Regions from separate parts of the Homo sapiens genome. Here region 1 is linked to region 2. The links come from fine-mapping of genetic effects on gene expression. A gene starts in region 2. The other region holds a variant in brackets. All regions are shown on one strand. Distances are between the middles of the regions.

Region 1 (5,000 bases), 22 kb before region 2:
TACAATATTTGCCCAAAGTTCTAAAACATTTGCATTGTCCAACCTAGTTATTTACTTCTAAAAATAATCCTAAGAAAATTATTAGACATGTGTTTAGAGACTTATGAACATTAGGCTGAGCTCAATGTTATTGTAGCATCAGAATGTGAGTAGCCAGGCTAAACATCTAATAGGATATGAATATTAAAGTCTATTTAACACAGCCATTTCATGGAATAAGGAATGCTTTGATGAGTTTGTATCAACATTGAGAAAATCCTCACAACATAGTGTTCTATGAACAAAAGTAAAATATAAAATTGATTTTTAAAGTATATAGGACATGGAAAATCTTTAGACGAAAACACAAAAAATTTATAGCACTTGCCTCCAGGTAGTGGAAATGAGTGATACATAGTTTCTTCTTTTTGTGTTTCCATATTTTTGAAAGTTTCTATAATTTAACATATTAATTTTATATTCAGAAATGTTATTTTATCAAAAAGAGTGAGACAACAATAAGTGAAAGTAGATAAAATCTGTGTAGTCCTGGCAAAAAAAAAAAAAAAAAAGCCCTGAACTTAAAGTCATGGGAAACCAGATGAAAAACATAAGTTCAGTATTGCTCAAACCATCAGAAAATGGAGATGGGAACTCTATATATAGTTCAGACGCAGAGCATAGGGCAAGGGCAAGTTTAAGAAAGAACAGATTCAACTCCAGTGGTCTTGGTTAAAGGTTTTTATCAGGACCCTGTGAAGAAATGAGGGTTATGAGCACCTGCCCCTTCCTGTGCAAAGGTGTGTCAGGGCACCTGCTAGTTAAGCGTTAGCTAGTTTTTATCATGCTTATGAAGTTCTAAATTTAAAAACCCTTCCAGCATGGTTAGAGAGAGGACATTTCCTAGCTTGCAGACTAGGCGAATGAGAGCTGGAAGAAAAGGAATCCTGTGAATCTCCTCTAGCTGGCACGCAGGAACAGACACTCCTCTCTAGGTGAGCACACACATCCCTAACGTCATGCCCCACCCACACAGCCTTGGGTCAGTGGTAGCAGGTCCTGCATAGACCCTGCCCTTGCCCTGTGCTTGCATGCTACTGCACGCACTGAGATGCATAAAAACCACCCTCAGACACTGCCATTCTACAGACCACCTCTCCCACACCCGCCCTGGCTCCTCTCTCTGGCCTTCTTGGTCCTGGACAATCCTCTGGATCCCATGCAGGGCTCCCACTTTTTATCCAGCTCCAATACTTAACAAACTTGTTTGCAGCTGGCTCAGACCTTAAAACCCTTCCACGACTCATCTTTCAATATTTGTCCTACAGCAGCCCTATGTCCCACAATAACTCCAGGCATGGAGCCCTTGCAGCAGATGCTGCCAGGGTCTCACCTATATCCCCTCTTCCTGGGCATGCCAGCCTGACTTCCACCTCCAGCATCTGCAGCTCCAGGCCTGAGGCCTTTGTCTGGTCACAAGAGACTACTCTGCCCTTGTGTGCAGCAGGTCGAAGTCACAGGGAATAAACAATTCCTTGCAAGAGCCTTCAACCAATGACAAGTAGAAGCTGGTGAATAAATACCCGGCTCCCTTGCCACTCAGATGGGATGCCCCTGAGCCCTGTATTCTTGGTGTTTCCTTGAGTTTCCCCGCTCCAGTTGTCCACAGTGGATACTCCCTTGACAACGCATCTTGGATTGGATTCCATCTCTTTCCTCTCTCACTTCCCCACCTCCCTACTGCTGTTATCTGGGATCATCACCTTAAAAAAACCACTTGCCTCTGGATTTTTTTTTCTCACAGTCTTCTGCTGGCATAAACCAAAATAAGACAGCACCTCATCCCATGCCATATGGAATCAGCCTTTGAGGCCTGACCCTCAGCTGTTTCCATGTCTGTCTATGCTGGGAGGTAGGTGGGTCAGATACAGAAGCTCGTGGGGTTTGTGTCCCTCCCGTTCGACCTCTGGGACTCACCTCTGTGGTTCCGGGCCACAATCACAGATGGGACACCAAACATCACATCTGCTATCAAGTCCAGGAACAGGTCTTTCTTTTTGACAGTGTCGTCTGTTCCTCCTAAGTATTTCTCAGTGGCTTCTGGAATCAGTTCCTTAGCAATGCACTGAAATAGATCAAAAAGTGACCACCAGCCCCGGGTGAGCGATGCAGCTTCTCCAGCCCACCAGAAAGTCCTGCCTCAATGGTGAACCCCATAAGCCCTGTGCAACTCCCCGCTAGGGTGGAAAATGAAGTGGGAAAGGTGGAAAGATGGGGGAAACCCTGAGGCCCCAGTCTTCATTCTGCCATTTAATTGCTCTATGATTTGGGCAAGTCCTTGTCCCTCTCTGGGTCTCAGCCAATTCCCATGATTCCTAGACTCTTACAACAAGGGGATAGGACTTCCACAGGAGTGACATGGCTGTCTTCTGGTCCA[G/A]TTGCCCTTCGGAGAGTGGATAGCTCATCAACTGCTAAAAAAAAAAAAAAGTTCAGCATTTATGAATCATTGGGAATTAATGATAAGAAACAAACTGACCAACCAACCAAACCAATGCAGTCTGAAAGTCCTCTAATTATGGGGGCTTTTAAGGGCATGAGTCTTTACTGAAATGGGTGAAATCAATGAATCAAATGGGCTTATATCCAGAAACTCAAGCATTGCAAAGTTTACAAAAAAAAAAAACAAAAAACAAAATTTCAGAGAAGCTGTGGCAGTGTTTTGCAGTGTGTGTGTGTGCGCGCGTGTGTGTGTGTGTGTCTGTGGCTGGGATCCCTACAGTGGTCAGTGACATGGAGATGCAAGGTGTCTGCCAGGCCAGTGTGGAATAGAGGGCTCTGGGGAAGAGGATGTAGACCTCCCTAGTACCCCCACCTGTCACAGATGACACTGAAATCCTTAAATCCTGTCTTCGTGGCTTTGGTCTTTGGTATAACCTCTGAAATCCTTCTGAGGGGCGAACTGCACATCTCTACGCACATAACAACTCTTCCCAAACCTCTGCACTCAGGGACTCGACCAATCTCTAGCATTGCTTCTAGCAGCTTAAGGCTGTGTCCCTAGAATGACCCCAGTATCCTTAACATAACTGCCTGGGAAGGCTCAACCCTGCCAGGACAATTTACTCTGCTCCAGCCAAAACCTGGAGACAAGCAGCCAGGTCCCCGAACCCAACTAGAGCAGTTACTTTAGAAGCCTGCAATGATAAACACTTTCTCTGCCCTTTGGGATGTGAATCTACCACCCAACCCCATTTCCTTGAGGACCTGAGAGCCTTCTCTTTGCAATGCAAACATTCAGGGAGCTCACTCCTGATCTTCCCAGTCCCTGTCGAAAGAGTAGAGCCTGACTTCAGTGGGTTCTTCCTGCGGTCTAATGCATGGCTTCCTGTCCTAAAGATAAGAGGAGTTTGTTTCTGCCCCAGGTGAGCCAGGATGAAGACATCCAGGTGGTCTAGTCACATGAACCAAGCCTCTCCCCATAGACCACAGTGTTTCCCTTGGCACACCTGGCCTATGAAACGTCATCAGGCTTTTGTTTCAGGGATGTGAGTCCACTCCACGCTGGACTATTTCCCCTATTGCAATCATATTACTGAATAAATCTGTCCTACTGCTTTAACCAGGGTCAGTTTTGTTTATCTTCAACTGGAAGGAGAACACTTCTTTACTTTTAGAACTCAATTACTTTTTCCATTTATTTGTTTCCAACTTTTATTTTAGGTTTGGGGGTAACTGTGCAGGTTTGATCATGGGTAATTTGGGTCTCTGGAGTTTGCTGTATAGATTATTTTGTTACCAGGTATTGAGCATAGCACCCGATTAGGTAGCTTTTCCATCCTCATCTTCCTCTGACCATCCACTCTCTTAGTAGACGCTGATGTCTGCTGTTCCCTAGAAGTCAATGGTAACTCAAGAAGAAGCCACTTTCTTTGGATATTTTCAATGAGGTGATGAAGAGCATGAGTGATTTTCAGGGGAATTACGCACACCCAGCCCGAGGTGGGAAGCCAGGAAGCCCCCGACTGCTTCTCCGGACTCCTCCACTCCTTCCCCCTTCTAGGCCCCCTCCGTTTTCCCATCTGCAGAGTTATTTTCTCTACTGGCCCTCCCAGCACAGACACTTCAGGATTCTTCAATAGGAAGACAATAAGAGAGTCTGGGGAGAGGGAATCCCAGGGCCCTGATACCCCGGTGAAAACTGTGCCCTCCTGGAGAAGATTTCCGTGGAAATGTTAACTCCTGCTGAAGGGAACAGCTGCCCAGGACTCAGAGTGCAGCTCGGAGAGGGAAGCATTCCTGGGACCAGAGACAGGAGGGCTGATGGGGGTGGTTGAGTCCCTCCAACAGACATGTGCCTTCTCACCATTGGAATCAACCAGCCAAACTCCTGCTTGTTAATTCCGACCATGTAGGGGACAGTGTGGAAATTCCTTTCAGCTTGAAGCTCTTCAGGTGTTTTCAGCAGCAGCATCCCATCAATCACAGTGCCCAGAAGGGGTTGACTCTGGGGAGAGAGCAGTGCAGCACCTGTGATTCCCTCCCTAGTCACACCCATGTCCCCAACTCTGCCTGTCTGAGGGTGAGACCAGTACCATAGACCGGCATGGCCATGCGCCATGGCTGCACATGCTCAGGATCCTAACTTAGGGGGGTAGGTCTCCATGACTCAGGGGCAGAACTTCAGGCAGAGGCTGACACTGCTCAGGTGATGAGGAGAGGAAGAAATCTTCACTCATATTGAAATACATGTATTATCTATGTAAAATTACATGTCTATATATTTCAATTTGAAGTGCATGCATTTTCCTCTGTGTGTCCACAATTGATTTTCGGTAGTCCTGGCAGTTGCTTCTGATAAAGCCCCCGTGAGTACTGAATTAGAGAATACAGGGTCATCACTCAAGGGGGAAATACTGGGTTAGGTTTTTGCAAACCTCTGGCCACAACATTTTCATCAACCTTCTTTTATGTGTGGGTTTCTGTTGAAAGAGACTTCCACGGCTCCATCCCACACAATAGGT
Region 2 (5,000 bases):
TGACCAGAGGTGGGGGAAATGGAAGGGAAAGAAGACCAAAGAGCTGGCTTGTAATGCTGGATCCCTGTTTACACAGGCTCGGTGGAGATGTGAGTGGGATATCCAGGCAAGATGATGCCACAGGATGAGCGCACTTCAAAGCTGGAAGGAAGCCTGGTGAGGGAGCAGGGCAGAATCTTCTCCTGGACTGTGAGGGTACATACGGTGGATGTGTATGGCTTCATTGAAGATGCCAGTGTGAGAGGGAAGAGAAAAAAAAACAAAGGTCAAACACAGGGACCACTACGGCCAAGACCAAAGATCCATCAGAATAGGGGAGAGAGAACGTTCCCATGTCTTTGAAGCCCAGGGAGCAAGAGGGCGAGGAACCAGCTAAGAGTGCTGAGGACTTCAGGGAGGTGGAGGAGAGTCAAGTCAGAGAAGAAACCACTGGGCTGGTCATGCTCAGCTCAGGGATTCCCTTCAACAGGATGAGGTGGATGGCAGCCAGATTGCCAAGGGTGAAAAAGTGGGTGAATGGGGGGAGGCAGAAACAAGTGTGAGAACAAGACCAGTTGCTGCTGATGTTATATGAAGCACGAACATGGTGGGCACCTACTATGTGCCAGGCATGCATTCCAGTTTTTTAAATTAATCTTCAAATAAGCCTTGCTGGGTAGGCATCAACATGCCCATTTTACAGAGGAGGAAACTGAGGAAGTGGAGGCAGCCTGTATGGTCTTCCTAAGGAAGGAAATGGATGGCATTGCCAGGAGTAACCAGAGGTAAAGGAACATTCAGTTCCAAATAGGCTTCCTCTCTTCTCTGCCCTTCCCCACAGTTCCAGAGCTCTCGCAGTGTCAGGCTGCCAGAAGGAAGACAGGATGCAGACGGGGCTGGGCTGTCAGGATTCAGGACCCAGAGACAGACCTAGGCGTGATTTTCGGGTTGACCCTGGGCAAGTACATTTCCCTGTGTGAGTCTCAGTTTCTCTGTCTATAAAATGGCATGGGGGTATTTCGAGGCCCCTCGCTGCACCCCTCTATGTACCATGTGTTTTGCTTTCTGTATTCTGATGCTCTGGCATCTGAGGCCTTGTTGACCTTGGAGAAACTCCCTCCCAGGGTCCAGCCACCCCAGAGCCCACACCCCAACTGCCTCTTTGATCGGGTTGCCATGCCCTGGCCACTACCCACCTGCCCTAATCATGCCAGGGCTAGGTACAAAACAATTAGGAACAGCCCCTGTGCCCCAGAGCCCCTGAAGTATCCCAACTTGCCAGTCCTCAGCCTGCCTGCCCTGCCTTTCCTCTTCTATCCTTGGAAGCCACAGTAAAAGCCCCTTGGCCTCAGATCCGCCCTGTCCCCTCCCCAGGCTCTGCTGCTTCCCCTTGTGCCCCGCGCACTGGTGTCCCCCTCCTGTTGAGAACATGAGTAAGAAACTGTCTTTTTAATGGCAAGAGGTCCTGATATAGTGGCCTGACCACAGCTCAAATTTTCTATTCATACACTACGTTTTTAAACAGCGCCTTTATTTATCCATCCCTTTTTCGTGCTTTCTACATACCAGGCGCTGCCAAGAGTGCTTTAGAAACAGCCACCCATTTCCTCCTCACCAAAGCCCAGTGAGGTAGGCAGCACTGCCACCTCTGTTTCAGAGAGGGGGTAACCCAAGCACGGAATAGCGCAGTCCCTTGCCTAAGGACACACAGCGAGGAAGCGCCCAGCGGGGACTCGAACCCACGCACTCTGGCTCCAGAGTCGATGCTCTTAATATTATGTTGAGCCGCTCTCCGTGATCCAGCCGTAAGGGGACTAATTAAGGGACAGCAAACTGAGCTGCCTAAATTTCTCGTGTGTGCGGCCTGAGGTGGGCCGGCTGTCGGCCTGCATTTGGGCGAGCAGTACAGGGCGATCTCAGGATGTTCACCCTCCCTGCGTCTCCGCGCGGGCCAGGCTGGCCGGGCTCAGCTGCTCCAAGTCCAAGTCCTAATATGGAAGTCGTGCCCCGCCGCAGAGCCGGACCTGTTGTGTCTTTGCCTTTCTACGCATCTGCGCCCACCTCGGCCCAGAACAAGGATTTCAAAAAGTGCCCCGCATTTTGATTTCAGAAGGACTCACCCCAAGCCGCGGAAGCAGAGAGAGTGGCCAGGATAAAGGCACGGAGCCACATCGTGGAAGGGCGACAGTTCTCGGGGCCTGCGAGGTCTCTGTGCAGTTCAGAGGGACTGTGCTGTCCAGCCCTGGAGCCCAGCCCCGCCCAGAGTTACCGCCCTGCGCTGCCAATTGCCTAATCCTCTAATTGGGAGAGATCAGAAAAGCCCTCCCTTTCCTCAGATCTCCCTGGGCTTCTAGTGGGGCCTCAGGCCACGCCCACCCACAGTTTACCCTCTTTCATCAAACCAGTCTGGACTCTACTGTCAGATTACAGAGAGCTGTAAACTTGCCCAACTACTTGTTACATAAGGGTTCACCCTTGCAGGACTCTAACCTCAGTGCACTGTGACGGCCCCCAAGGGCCCACACCAGCAGGCAGATGCTTTTAGGCAAAGGGAAGCTTTGATCTGAGGTCCTCAGAAACAACTGGAAAATGTTAGAGCCACTCACACCTCACAGCTCAGCTGGGTAAGTTAGGACATATCTCAGCTCCCAGGGCTTGTGTTTTCATAGCTTTCCAGGCTCTCAAGCTTGGAAGCGATCTTAAATTTCATCGAGTCCCCTTTCTGAGGCCTGAATTAGCTTCACAATATCCTGCCAACTGGTCCAGCCTCCTGTCACACACCATCGGTGTCAGAGAACTCACTACTTTCCAAAGCAGGGATTTTTGGACAGAATGTAAAAATGAACTCCGTCCCCCCATAGTCCCTGGCTGTTATCATCCATCCATCCAAGTACCCATCCATTTTGTGAACATTTACCAAAATGCTTGGCACCTGGCCATGTATAATGGATACAAAGACCAATTCAAGACATGGTTCAGCTTCTCAAGGGGCTCACCATTGTAGACAAGACAGATGGGGTGGAGGAGCAGTAGGGGTGATGTCAAGGCAATGTGAAATCACCAAATTAAGGGGATACAGAGTGCTCTGGGCACACCTGGAAAACTGTCATTTACAAGCTGCTGGGGACACAAGGAAGTCACTCAAAGCCTCTTTCATGGGATTATTAAATGTCCAACAATAGGGAATTCACTAAACACACTGTGGTACCGCTGGCTAAGGAAATACGATGTATTCACTCAAAATAGTGATGTGCACAGCTATTTATTAACAATGAAGACAGGATGCGTTGTGAAAGGAGAAAATAATAGGTTATAAACTGTTGTGCGGTGTAGGCAGTTCCTCAAAAAGTTCAACACAGAGTTTCCATATGACCCAGCAATTCCCCTCCTAGGTGTCTACCGAAGAGAACTGAAAGCATGTCCACACAAAAGCTTGTACACAAAGAGCAGTGTCATTCATCCTAGTCAAAAAGTGGGCACAACCCGCATGTCCATGACCTGATGAATGTGTAAATGAAGTGTGGTGTATGCGTGCAGAGGCATATCATCCAGCCATAAGAAGAACATGCTACAACGTGGATGAAGCTGGAAAACATCATGGTAAAGGAAAGAAGCCAGCCACAAAAGGCCACATGTCGTATGATGCTTTTTATATGTAATTTCCAAAATAGTCAAATCCATGGAGACAGAAAGTGTTTGACAGGGTCTGGGGAAGGGGAAAGAGACGGGGATGAGGAGTGACTGCTAATGGGCATGAGTTTTATCTTGGGGGTGGTAAAAATGTCCTGGGATTAAATAGTGATGATGTTAGTGCAACTTTGGGAATATACTAAACACCACTAGATTGTACACTTTAAAAAGGTAAACTTTATGACATGTGACTTATATTTCAATAAAATAATGAAATATTTTTGAAAATCTAGATAGGTATAATATGGTCCCGTTTTGGTAGTAACATATGTCTTTATTTGCATAGGAAAATACTGGAAGTCTATATATCTAATTAGAATTACAACAGCCATTTCCTGGCTGTAATCTTGTCAGTGTTTCACTTATTTGCATTTTCCACTTTTATTCCTTCATACATTCATTGACAAATATTTACTGAGAGCTTACTGTGTGGCAAACACTATGCCGAGAGTTTTGTATGCAGGATCTCAGTTCTCAAAATAACCCCGTGAGATTAATGCTGTCTCACGATCTTAAATTGATTTCTGTTGTTTAAGCCACCCAGTCTGTGATATTTTCTTCTGGCAGCCTAAGTAGACTAATACATAGGCTCAACTCAATTCCGTTATTTATTCCCAAAAGAAACTAAGGCCCAGAGATGAGGAGGGATTGCCTAAGGTCACACAGCAACTCAATGGCAAAGTCAGAACCAGAACTTGAGGCTTCTGCCTTCCAGCACAGGGTGGCTGGCAGCCATTTCTCTTGCTTTTATACATCAGGAAGATATTCTAATCAGTAGCCTTATCTAAGGCAAATTGCCTTGTCAGCTCATTGACCCAGGCTTAGCATGGTAGGGCTGAAGGGATAGAAATAGCCAGGGGAGGCTGGGCACTGTGGCAACCCTTCCCGCTCGGTAATCCTAGCACTTTGGCAAGCCAAGGTGGGAAGATTGCTTGAGAGAGGAGTTCAAGACCAACCTGGGAAACATAGTAAGACCCTATCTCTACAAGAATAAGGAGAAAGGAAGAAGAAGAAAAAGAGGAAGGAGAAGAAGGAGAAGGAGGGAAGAAAGAAGAAGAGGAAGAAGAAGAAGAAAGACAGAGAGAGACAAAGAAAGAAAGAGAGAGGAAGGAAGGAAGGAAGGAAGGAAGGAAGGAAGGAAGGAAGGGACAAAGATGGGAGCCATGTACCAGGTACCTGGGGAGCTATGTTCTATTTTCCCAATGTCACTTGGCAAGCCTGCCCTTGTCCAGGCCACACCACTATTGACATCAGGAAAGATTGGGCAACCAGCAGCCATAAATCACATGACAGTCCCAGAGCTGCTGATGGATTCTTGCCCAAGGCCATGA

What was found. PIP is the estimated chance that this variant, and not a neighbour inherited with it, causes the effect.
Region 1: its variant is fine-mapped to the expression of CES1 in whole blood (TOPMed, PIP above 0.99).

The regions. Positions count from the first base shown.
Region 1 is chr16:55,808,561-55,813,560 of GRCh38, forward strand. It overlaps CES1 (carboxylesterase 1), which reads right to left. Exons shown (of 14, transcript NM_001025195.2): 9 at 4,343-4,483; 10 at 2,367-2,450; 11 at 1,957-2,104. Among named protein-coding and RNA genes, the nearest start is that of CES1, 22 kb to the right of the region's middle. The variant G/A (reference allele first, on the strand shown) is at 2,417.
Region 2 is chr16:55,830,905-55,835,904 of GRCh38, forward strand. It overlaps CES1 (carboxylesterase 1), which reads right to left and starts at 2,192. Exons shown (of 14, transcript NM_001025195.2): 1 at 2,100-2,192. The coding sequence starts at 2,151.